2 linked regions of the Homo sapiens genome follow. The protein of the gene in region 1 purifies or fractionates together with the protein of each later gene. This does not show direct contact. Each region holds a gene or a part of one and is shown on either strand. Other genes may lie near its edges. The genes, in order: NT5DC1 and PKLR.

Region 1 (8,213 bases):
CTACTGCAGTTGCCAATTGGTACCCTGTGGTCCATATGCAGCCTACAAATTATGTTTGGTTCCCACTTAAGGTTGCCAGATAAAATTTAAAAATGCCTAGGTAAATGTGACTTTCAAATAAAAAACAAATAATTTTTTTTTAGTATAAGCATGCAATATTTGGGACCCCACTCTCCCACTCACACATCTACGTTAACTGACTGGTATCAGACTTCTGAGTCTGCAACCTTAGAGAGGAGAAACCATGTGTCATCCTCTCTTCTAGAATGCCTTTCCTGAGGCCTCATGTGAGGGGGACACACTCAGTTCTGTGTTTGCACAACTCTGTGCAGTTGTTAAATGCCTACAAAACTGAAAGGAGACGCACTCACAGCTCTCCATGATGCAGCCCCCACTGACTTCTCCACCATCTTCTCCTGCAACTTGCCACCTTTTGCTTGCACCCAGCAGTTCCCGGTGCTGTTGCTCACCTCGAGGTTCTGACCTTTACTCTAACTCCTCTGGGTGAAGCACTCCTCTCCACCTCCTCACCTGCCAGCTCCCGGCCTTTCCTCTGTGTTTTCGGGCACCATACAGACAGCAAGGTGGGAAGAAGCAGAAATCCACAGCCGGACTACCTCGCTTAGTTGCCCTGGATACACTTTCCTTCTGTGCCCCGTTGCTTGATGCTCTCTTAACAGTGACTAAATCACTGTTAAGTGATTAAACAGTGGTGATAATATCTACCTCACAGGGACGTTGTAAGGATTAAATCCATTCATATAAGCAGCATGCTTATTAGAATCATGGCTGTATCATATTCTGTTATTAAAATACCTATTATCTATTCAGTCTATTTATTGAGTCCAGTATGTGCCCAGCACTAAGCTCGGCACACAGAACACACAAGAAACTGTCACAGATACTGATGGAGTCATCACGCTGGGCTCTAGGGGAAGTCCAACAAGTAAACAGGAAGTGTTAATATCATGCAGCATGTGCTATGAGGAATGAAGGGTTTTGTGGAAAACTGAAGGTGGGCTTAGAATGGAAGGGCAAACTTTAAGGGCCAAAAAGACTTCCTAAGGGGAACGATGTTTAAGATGAGGCCTGATGGGATGAAGAGCTTCTGTGCAGAGCAAAGAGGCCCTCCAGGCACTGTTGGCAGCGTGAAGCAAGACCCAGGTCATACTACCCACCACAAGGGACCAAGACTAACTCTTCAGCATTTTTGCCTACTGTGTAAGGCTGCCTGGAGGCCTGCGTGTTGATCTCTGTATCCTCAGCTCTAGCATGGTGCTCAGCACACTGTGGGACTTAAAATAAAAAAGATTTCCACACCAAACATGATCCAAAACTCAATAGGTTACTGTTTTCAAGCTTTAAACATCACTTATTCTCCAGGTTTGCAGTAAAAAAACCTCTTGTCTTTGAGAATCTTATATTCTGAAATTTTATGATCACCTATGGACAACACTAGCTCTAACATGACAGTGGTTTAACAATATTACCTCCAAATGAAGGTAACTAAAGAGGAGACACACAAAACTGTGAACCAGGAAGGATTCGAAAGACACAGAGGGAAGGAAAACATGTATCAAAGACCTAGGGGAAGCAGTGGCCAAAGAATCAAGCAGTAAAAAAGCCTTCTTAATTCTCAATGTGACTAAGGAAACCAGACCTGTAAGGTAAGAAAGCAGGAAAGTGTAACAGCAGAAAAAGGACATTTAAAAAAAAATTTAGCATCTGGGCATAGAAAACACACGAGAAATTCGGGCAGCCACTCTTTTTTGACCTTTAACGTGTACCTGAACTGGTGGGTGCAGGAACTGGCGGGTGCCCATAATGGGGCACAACCCTGGCTGATGTCTGCACCAGTGATCTAGAGTTCTACCCATAAACTGTGAGGTTTCCAAATAGTTTGGGTGGTAACCATAAAAGCAAACACTTGTCTTTGCCAAGGTACTATTCTAAGCATTATACATCTCTTACTCATTTAATCCTTGCAACAATCTTGTGAGGTAAATCCAATTATTAGCTCCATTTTACAGATGGGGAAACTGAGAAGCAGCACAGGTTAAGTAACTTCCTCGAAGTCACAGAGCTAGTAACAGTGGAGCTGGTGTCCTAAGCTAGGCAGTCTGGCTGAGGAGTCCTCGCTTTCACCACTGTACTCATAACCAGCTCTTTTTCTGTCTGGATGCTTAGATCTTGGACTAAAAAAATCTGGTAACTTTTCAAAATTAGTTTCCTTGGGAATTGGGAAACCAAAGGAATAGTGGAGGGAGGGCAATTAATTTGAGTGTACAGGTCTGGAAGCATGCATACTCCATGTCCCCCTCCCTCAGGGCACAGTGAGGACCCAAACTTCGCAGACTGTTGGTAGGACTGGAATGTATTCAAAGTGCACGGAGCACGTAGTCGATGCGCAATAAATATGTATTTTCTTCTCTTGATAGAAGGTAAAACTAGGGCTAAGATCTTAATGACTTTTCAACTAGTGTTCCTTTCAATACACTACACTATATACTACGCATCTCTCCCAGATTGCAGTTTAAACACTGATGGGTGGTTGATCGTGCAAACAGAAAAATGCAGCCAAAAAAAATGCAAGTACCAAATCAAGTGGCTGTGTCCACAATCAGCTGGTGTCCAGAAAGACATGCAGAGAAAGTTCCACGACGTGAGATCTTCAAGGACAGCCCTAGTCCCCCTGACCCCGCCCCTCCTCGGCCCTAGAAATCACCGATTCCCCAGCCCGGTCTTGCGCAGTTTGCCCCTCCTTCGTTCTTCCCTATCCCTCTCAACATTAGCTAATGGCTGAGGTAAATGTGCCGGTCCCCACGGCACCGGCGCGGAGCGGAGGCTGCACACTTCCGCCCCTTCTCGCCGCTGGAGGCCGCGCTCTGCGGCAAGACTCGGCCGCCGCAGGCCCCGGGCAGCGTCCGCCGTTGCCCAAACCTGGAGGAAACTCAAGCCCCAGCCGCCATGGAGGTTGCGCGCAGTGCGCCCCGGAGCCCGCGCCACTCACCGGGGCGCTCTCGGGCAGGTTGTAGCGACACAGAGTGTGGTCCAGGTCGAATCCGACCACGTCGCAGGCGGCCAGGGAGAAGTGCTGAGCCATGGCTGCGCGGGGAGCACCAGGGAGCGCCTCGGCCGCGAAGGGTGCAAGGAGCTGGCTGGCGGGACGCTGCGGGACAGGACCGGGCCGGACGCGGCGGGGCGGGGCTGCGGCTGCCAGGGCACACGGCGCGGCAGCCTCTCCCGCCTCCCGCGCCCTCGAGCACCGCCCCTCGATACGCTTAGCCCCCGCCCCTCGCGCGGCGGGCGTCCTGCGCCGCCCGGAGTCAGGTAGTCAGCTCGCGTCCTCCTGGTACCCCAATGCCGGCGACTCCTGATCTGTTCCGCAAGCCTAGGAGCCCAGAAGGCAGTAGGGGTCCAGGAGCGGTGCCGCTGCTGCACAGCTGAGACCTGTAGGCACGTAGCCTTTCCCGAGGGCTACCACAAAATTAACCGGGACACTCCATCGCCTCAGGGCGCCTCGGAAACCAGGAGATCATGAGGTTAGACCTGACCTTTTACCCCTGTGTGAGGAATAGTAAGATCATAGAAAAAATTCATCCGCTAATATCCCTCTGACCCAGTTAGCCTACAATTTGGAAGGTCTTTTCACCCACGTGATCTTTGATAGTGGTTTAAACCAAAAACTTTATATTCCTTGGTTTCCTAAGTGGTTAAGTGGAAGACAGACCTTTCACTATTTCATACCCTGGAGTGCGTTAGAAAATAAATGTATCAGACATCGTGAAGAACCATTTTGCAAGATGATACTTGTTATGGAAACCAATATTGGTTATTACTTGATAATCCTATTTTGTTATTGTAATGAATTTTTTATGAAAGGGCATCAGAAACTTCATAGAAATATATAGAGCATACTACAAAAAACTTTTGCAAACCGGGTTTAAGGTTTATAGAGCACAAAATGTTTTGAGTGACATTTGCTTAATTCTCTCAAGAACTGTATAACTACTACCATTTTAGATGCAGAGAAAGTTAATCCATTACATACAATGTATGCCTTAGGGCATTTAATTCTCTTCCTGATTTCCGGATGTGAAGGACTAGCACTTTGAGATCTTTATTACATAGTACCTCATTTTAAAAAGAAAATACAAATCTATTATGTTTACACTGCTTCAGTTCTCAATTTAAAGGAACAATGTGTCTAATGGGACAAATCAATAGTCGTGACATAATGAAAATATAATTGATTGAGAACTGCATTTAACCCTTTCAAATACTAATCCTTCTGAGGCTAATAGACCAATCAGAGGATTAATTTAGTGCAATAGATAGTACAATTGAGTAGGAGGACACTTATACCTAGTAGACCCATTTGAATAAAATTGATAACTTGTTCCATTATAACACTTAAAAGCCCCAAACAAATCTCTCTGGAATAGGAAAAGTAAAGAATCTTCAAGAAGATTAAGCTGTTCACTGATGAGTCCAACAATCATGTTTTCAATGTCTGTGAACCAAAAGAGAAAAGGCTGGATTGTTGGAGAGGCTGGAAAAAGCTTGTTGGCCCTGGAGCATTGACCTTGGCATTCTCCTCTGCACCTTGCAATAGAATGCTACCAAAGTCAAACTTCCAGGTGCATGCCACATTGAAGGGCACATGTTTCCTTGGGGAATATCTTGTTTCATGTGGGAGTAGGTGCTTTAGGTACTTTAGGGACTTCCCTTAGTAATACAAATGTACTAGTACATTCATTGTAAGAGGGAAGAGTATAAAAGGATTGTTTTTTGTTGACTTAGCAAAAACTTCTCCTTACAAAACCTCTTGAGTGTGCTGAATTGTGAACAGGAAATTGACTTGGGGTAAGGGGAGAGAGGGAACCAGGGCACTCTTAAAGAGAAAAAGACCCCTGGGTCGATAACCAAGTGGTCCTGGGACTGGATCTGGCTATTACATGCACATCAACAATCTTATGTACTTGCTGATTAACAAATTATATATATTCTGCATGTTTGCACAAACAGTTCTTGTGCTAGAGAGTCCACATCATTTAAACTTTGTGGGAGAATTTTGCAAATGATCCAATCCTAGAGGCTTGTACTCTTTCTTGAGCCCCACTCACCTTTCCTTTGTACCTCAAACCTCAGTCTGACTCTTCCAGAAATATAGGGGATGGTTCCCTTCTCTTCTCCCATTCCCTACATAACCCTGAGTTTAAATACAAACACTCAGTTTAATTGTTTCATAAGGCTTATTTTTGGATAAAGATATTTCATTTTCCCTGCACATTAAACTTTTATCACACTTACTGATAAAATGCCACAGCTCTTGTATTATCAACTACAAGTTCAGTCTTCTACTTAGATACCAATTAATTTCTGTTTCTTTGAGTATCATGGACTGAATTTTGTCCCCCACTCATTCATGTGTTGAAGACCTAACCCACAATGTGTTTATATTTGACATAGGGCCTTTAAGGAAGTAATTAATGTTAAATAAGGCCATAAGGGTGGAGCCCTAATCCAACAGGATTAGCATTCTTGTAAGAAGAGGAAGGGGCACCAGAGTTTTCAAGCACACAAGAAAGGCCATGTGAGGAGCCACAAAACCACGGCTGTCTGCCTGGCGTCGTGGCACACACCTGTAATCCCAGCACTTTGGGAGGCCAAAGTAGGCAGATCGCTTGAGGTAAGGAGTTCAAGACCAGCTTGGGCAACATAGCGAGACCCATCTCTAGAAAAAATACAAAAATTAGCAGGGTATGGTGGCAGGCACCTATAGTCCTAGCTGTTGTAGGGGCTGGGGTGGGAGGATCGCTTGAACCTGGGAGGCAGAGGTTGCAGTGGGCTGGAATCAGGCCATCGCACTCCAGCCTGGGTGACAGAGAGAGACCCTGTCTTTTAAAAAAAAAAAAAAAAAAAAAAAAAAAGCTGTCTGTAAGCCAAGGAGAGTGGCTTCACCAGAAACCAACCCTGACAGCGCCTTGATCTTGGACTTTGAGCCTCCAGAACTGTGAGAAAATAATTTTTTGTTGTCTAAACCCCATTGTGTGGTATTCTGTTAAGGCACGCTGAGCCAACTAAGGCAGTTAATAAGGATAATTGACTCAAATCAGTGTTGTGTTAAATGTAGGAAATATTTGCCATTTGAAAGGTCTGTAAAGGACATGAACTTGGGTTTATGTTATTTGTTGACTTCTTGAAGTTGGGTACTTTTGCTTATGTGTAACATTAATACCATGCTGTGAAGTTTTAGAGTTTTTTTGTTTTTAGTATTTCATGTACTGTTTTTTCTTATACTTATGAGTTATGTAATAATTTAGAAATATTCAGAAACAGGAAGTTATATTACAGCCGATTTTCTAGAATTAAATTTCATTATTACAATTGATCTGCTTTTAATTGAGGTGGTACTATAATTTAGCAATTTTAACCTTAGGTGTGACTTGTGATTAGCTAGCTTAAGCTTTAGACTCTATAATATCTCAATAACTGATCTTTTGTGAATTTATAATACTTTATTTTAACATCTATATTGTAAATATGATTTGCCATACATTTTTGGGAAGGAGGGAAATGGCCTGTTTCTTTTTTCATTAGTTTAAAATATGCTTTTCTAAATATTCCTAATTAAACATTGTATGTTCAACTTTTTGTATAACCTAAGCCAATCTACATATCTTCTGTGGCACATATAATTCTTTAAGGGGTAAGAAAAAAGTTCATTTACTAAATTGGAAAAAAATAGGAAAAATATGAATTTCTAAAAATAAAACTCTATGGCACTTAAATATTAGACATTTAGCTACATAGAACCAAATACTTATTTGTAATATTATGCTGAGGCCTTTAGATGGCAGTAGTCCTGCATGAGGAATATTTTTTATTTTTTTTTAGTAATCTTAAAATCTTTACATTTCTTAATAAAAAATACTTCATTTTCTACTCTCTTGATTTTCTACTCTGTTCTTACCACAAGAAGAAGAAGCCTACTTAGAAATTTCACTGTGGTTTTTTGGTGTGTGAATTTATTTTCGATGATGGAGAGGGAGGACGTAATGGGACAAAGTCCTTTTGTGTCCGTAGTTGGTTCCTTCCAGGGGGTTCTTGGTCTCACTGACTTTAAGAATGAAGCCGTGGACCTTTGTGGTGAGTGTTACAGCTCTTAAAGGTGGCATGGACCCAAAGAGTGAGCAGAAGCAAGATTTATTGTGAAGAGCGAAAGAACAAAGCTTCCACAGCATGGAAGAGGACCTGAGTGGGTTGCCGCTGCTGGCTGGAGTGGACAGCTTTTATTCCCTTATTTGTCCCTGCACACGTCCTGCTGATTGGTCCATTTTACAGAGCGCTGATTGGTCCATTTTATAGAGTGCTGATTGGTCCATTTTACAGAGTGCTGATTGGTGCATTTACAATCCTTTAGCTAGACACAGAGTGCTCATTGGTGCATTTTTGCAGAGTGCTGATTGGCACATTTACAATCCTTTAGGTAGACACAGAGTGCTGATTGGTGCGTTTTTACAGAGTGCTGATTGGCGTGTTTACAGTCTTTTAGCTAGACACAGAGTGCTGATTGGTGTGTTTTTACAGAGTGCTGATTAGTGCATTTACAATCCTTTAGTTAGACACAGAGTATTGATTGGTACATTTACAATCCTTTAGCTAGACACAAAAAATCCCCACTCGACCCACAAAGTACAGCTGGCTTCACCTCTCAATCTCTCCTCTAAACAGGACACCCCAACTGCTGTTGGGAATTGGGCGATGACCATTCTAGCTACTTCCTGTGGGATAGGGGCAAAGAAGGGGCCCTACAGTTGTACTGTCCTCTAGAGGGGAACTCTTTAGGCCAGTCAAAGGGCCAGTGGGTTTGTCCACGGGTCCTCGGTAGAAGTTGTTAGTTGAGCTCATTTGTGGTTCCATTTGTAAGACCATCTGTAGCTTGATGGCCGTGATCCTAGAGGAACCAAATTTGACAAGGAGGTTAAAAATAAAGGGCCTGAAGGCGAGTAATGGCAAGATGGCTGTCATGGGACCTAGAAAGGGGAGAAGTCATGTCACCCAATTCCAGAGGTTGGTATAAGAGTTTGAAAGGCATTGTCTGATATCAGAAGCCTTTTCCTATAAATGCTGGGCGGCATCTCATACTGTCCCTGACTGGTTAGTGTAAAAGCAACACTCTTCCCCTAAGAAGCTGCAAAGTCCTCCTT
Region 2 (2,945 bases), on another chromosome or scaffold:
CACTGCAATCTCTGCCTCCTGGGTTCAAGTGATTCTCCCACCTCAGCCTCCTGAGTAGCTGGGACTACAGGCATGCGCCACCACGCCTGGATAATTTTTGTATTTTTAGTAGAGACAGGGTTTCACCATGTTGGCCAGGATGGTCTCAATGTCTTGACCACGTGATCCGCCCGCCTCGGACTCCCAGAGTGCTGGGATTACAGGCGTCAGCCACCGTGCTGGCATCTCTTACACCTTTAATATACTGCAGTGGTCACATTCCCTGCATGCCACCCGTGGGACATACTTCACTGCCTCATTCCCTACAGGATGGCCTTGATGTGGTGAAAGGTGGTGGCTGGTTCTCGTTACAGGGCTGGCCTGGTCCCTCAATGACTAATTTTCTTTCTTTTCTTCTTTTATTATTATTATTATTATTATTATTATTATTATTATTATTATTATTATTATTTTGAGATGGAGTCTTGCTCTGTCCCCAGGCTGGAGTGCAGTGGTGTGATCTCGGCTCACTGCAACCTCTACCTCCTGAGTTCAAGCGATTCTCCTGCCTCAGCCTCCCTAGTAGCTGGGATTACAGGCATGCGCCACCACACCCAGCTAATTTTTGTATTTTCAGTAGAGACAAGGTTTCACCATGTTGGCCAGGCTGGTCTCAAACTCCTGACCTCAGGTGATCCTCCTGCCTTGGCTTCCCAAAGTGATGGGATTACAGGTGTGAGCCACCACACCTGTCCAATGATTTGTTTTCTTTCCCTCCCCCAGGAAAGCTCCGTGGCTTCCTCCGTGTTGGAGACCTGGTGATTGTGGTGACAGGCTGGCGACCTGGCTCCGGCTACACCAACATCATGCGGGTGCTAAGCATATCCTGAGACGCCCCTCCCTCCTCTGGCCCAGCCTACCCTTGTACCCCATCCCTTCCTCCCCAGTCTACGTTCTCCAGCCCACACCCCTCCAAAGCCCCACCTTTAAGTCCTCTCTTCTCTATTCCTGACCCTCCCTACCTGAGGCCTATCTGAGACTATAACTGTCATCTAGCCCCTTCGAGGTTGCCCCTTCCCCATCTCCATTTCACACAGGTCCTGAAAGTCTGTGTCCAATTATGCACTGGCCACCCAACAGCACCAATTGTACATTCCCTGCATCCAATCTGCTCAGCAGGCCCTAAGATGCCTTGAGTCTTTAATCCCAGTTTGGCTGGTTAATTCCATAACCCCAGGCATCCCATCCCTTGGGGTGGGGGAGAGGGGAGACAGGGCAATCTTGTCCACAGTCTCCCATTCTCATATGTAGCCCTCATGATAATCTGGGCATCTCGTGCCAGGGCAGGCTACCCCTTCATGGTGACTAACAGTTACATGAAAGTCCACGCTTTTGGGAAAACTGGGTGGGATGGATGCTGGGGAGAAGTGAGGGCTGGGCAGCTGATTTTGTCACTGTCTTCACAACCTCCGTGCTGGGCTTGTAGACCACTGTCCTGGCTGCTCTCATGCCTGCCTGATACCCTGCTTGGTCAAATCCCCGGCTGCTTCCTTCTGCACCCAGAAATTCCTTCCCACTCATGTTGTTCCCACACACAAACCAAGAGCCAAAAATGAGTGTGTCTATTTTATATTTAAACCCAGCTGTTTGGAAGCAATTATAAAACTTCTCCCACACACCAAGAACCCCAGAACTCCCCACCCAGAAGGAAAGGAGACTTAGGGTCCTGGTCCCACAGTCTTTAATGCTGTAGAGTAGGAGAGGGGACAGGCAGAGTGAGGGTGGTAAAGGACTACTCTTGTCCCTGAGAAGGCAGAGGTGCTGGCTGGCCTGCCCTTCCCCAGGCTTGGATACCTTGGGCCTTTCCCTTATTCCTGCACCAACAGCAAACTCAGAAGGAAAAAACAAAACAAAACTCTAAAGGTAAACGCGGTCCTTCTCCCTCTCTCATGTGGCTCCTCCTGCCCCTACCTGGGAGAAGGTTCAAGTATTGCGCTGATGGGTTTGGGCAAGGACCACAGAGGCTGGCATGGAGAGGCCCTGCCTCCTCCTACTCCTCCTGTCTCCTTACCTGAAAAGGAGGGGAGGGATGGATAAAGGAATGGGTAAACAAAATTAATTGGTAACACATAAAGTTAGTAAATGAATAAATACAATTAAATAAATGAATAAATAAACAAGCGAAGAAAAAAATATCACACAAGGATTCAGCCATTTGCCCCTCCACCGGGGGGGATCTAGGCTGGCATATTAATAAGGAGGTGCCAACTACCCCTTAACTTTTAGGGGGTCACGACTGGGGCAGAGGGTACAGGGAAGAGGAAGCTCGCAGTTTACAAAAAGATGGTCTACCACAGGACAGAGACTGCAGGGAACTTAGAAGTATGTTCCCACTCAGAGGGTAGACACAGAGTGTCCACAGGTGGCAGTGAGCGGGTAAAAGTGGATACCCACACTCAGGACCCAAGACATCTGCTGACAGCAATGGGGGCACAGGTGACTGGCAGTGCCTGGCTATGCTACAGGAACAGGAAGATAACCAGACCGGGCAGAACCTGCAGGATCATTGGCAGGGAAACAGAGACATCTAGTTACTTGGCAGTGATGGCAGTGGCAAGTACTTGTGCTTAGTAAAGGTGGGGTCATGGGCCTGGGCCTGCACCTGGCAGGACCATAGCCAAGGGAATATCCTTGTCAGAGGGTTTTGAGTCACTTCTACTTGGCAGTGGAGACATACAGCGCCTGGCATATTACCTTGAACATGGTAGCTGCTCAGTACACATGATGAACGGGTGAATGGATTATGATGGGACAAGCTACAGGATTCTTGAGCTGAGGACACAGAGACCGTCTTCATGGCAGTATGCGGAATGTCCGCACAGGGTCGACATTTCCATGGGGCAATGTTTCAGGTCCCCATGGCCTTCCCCAAGAGGCATCTGCCCTTGGGTACATACTACTGCACC

The links.
Region 2: the proteins of NT5DC1 (region 1) and PKLR purify together in Homo sapiens (affinity purification with mass spectrometry; 2 studies listed by BioGRID and IntAct, with this or other methods). This does not show direct contact.

What each region holds. Positions count from the first base shown.
Region 1 is NC_000006.12:116,095,821-116,104,033, reverse strand, and holds the start of NT5DC1 (5'-nucleotidase domain-containing protein 1), read right to left. Parts: upstream 3,182-8,213; 5' UTR 3,104-3,181; coding exon 3,011-3,103; intron 1-3,010.
Region 2 is NC_000001.11:155,288,496-155,291,440, reverse strand, and holds the end of PKLR (pyruvate kinase PKLR), read left to right. Parts: intron 1-762; coding exon 763-869; 3' UTR 870-2,148; downstream 2,149-2,945. UniProt on the Homo sapiens protein: Pyruvate kinase that catalyzes the conversion of phosphoenolpyruvate to pyruvate with the synthesis of ATP, and which plays a key role in glycolysis.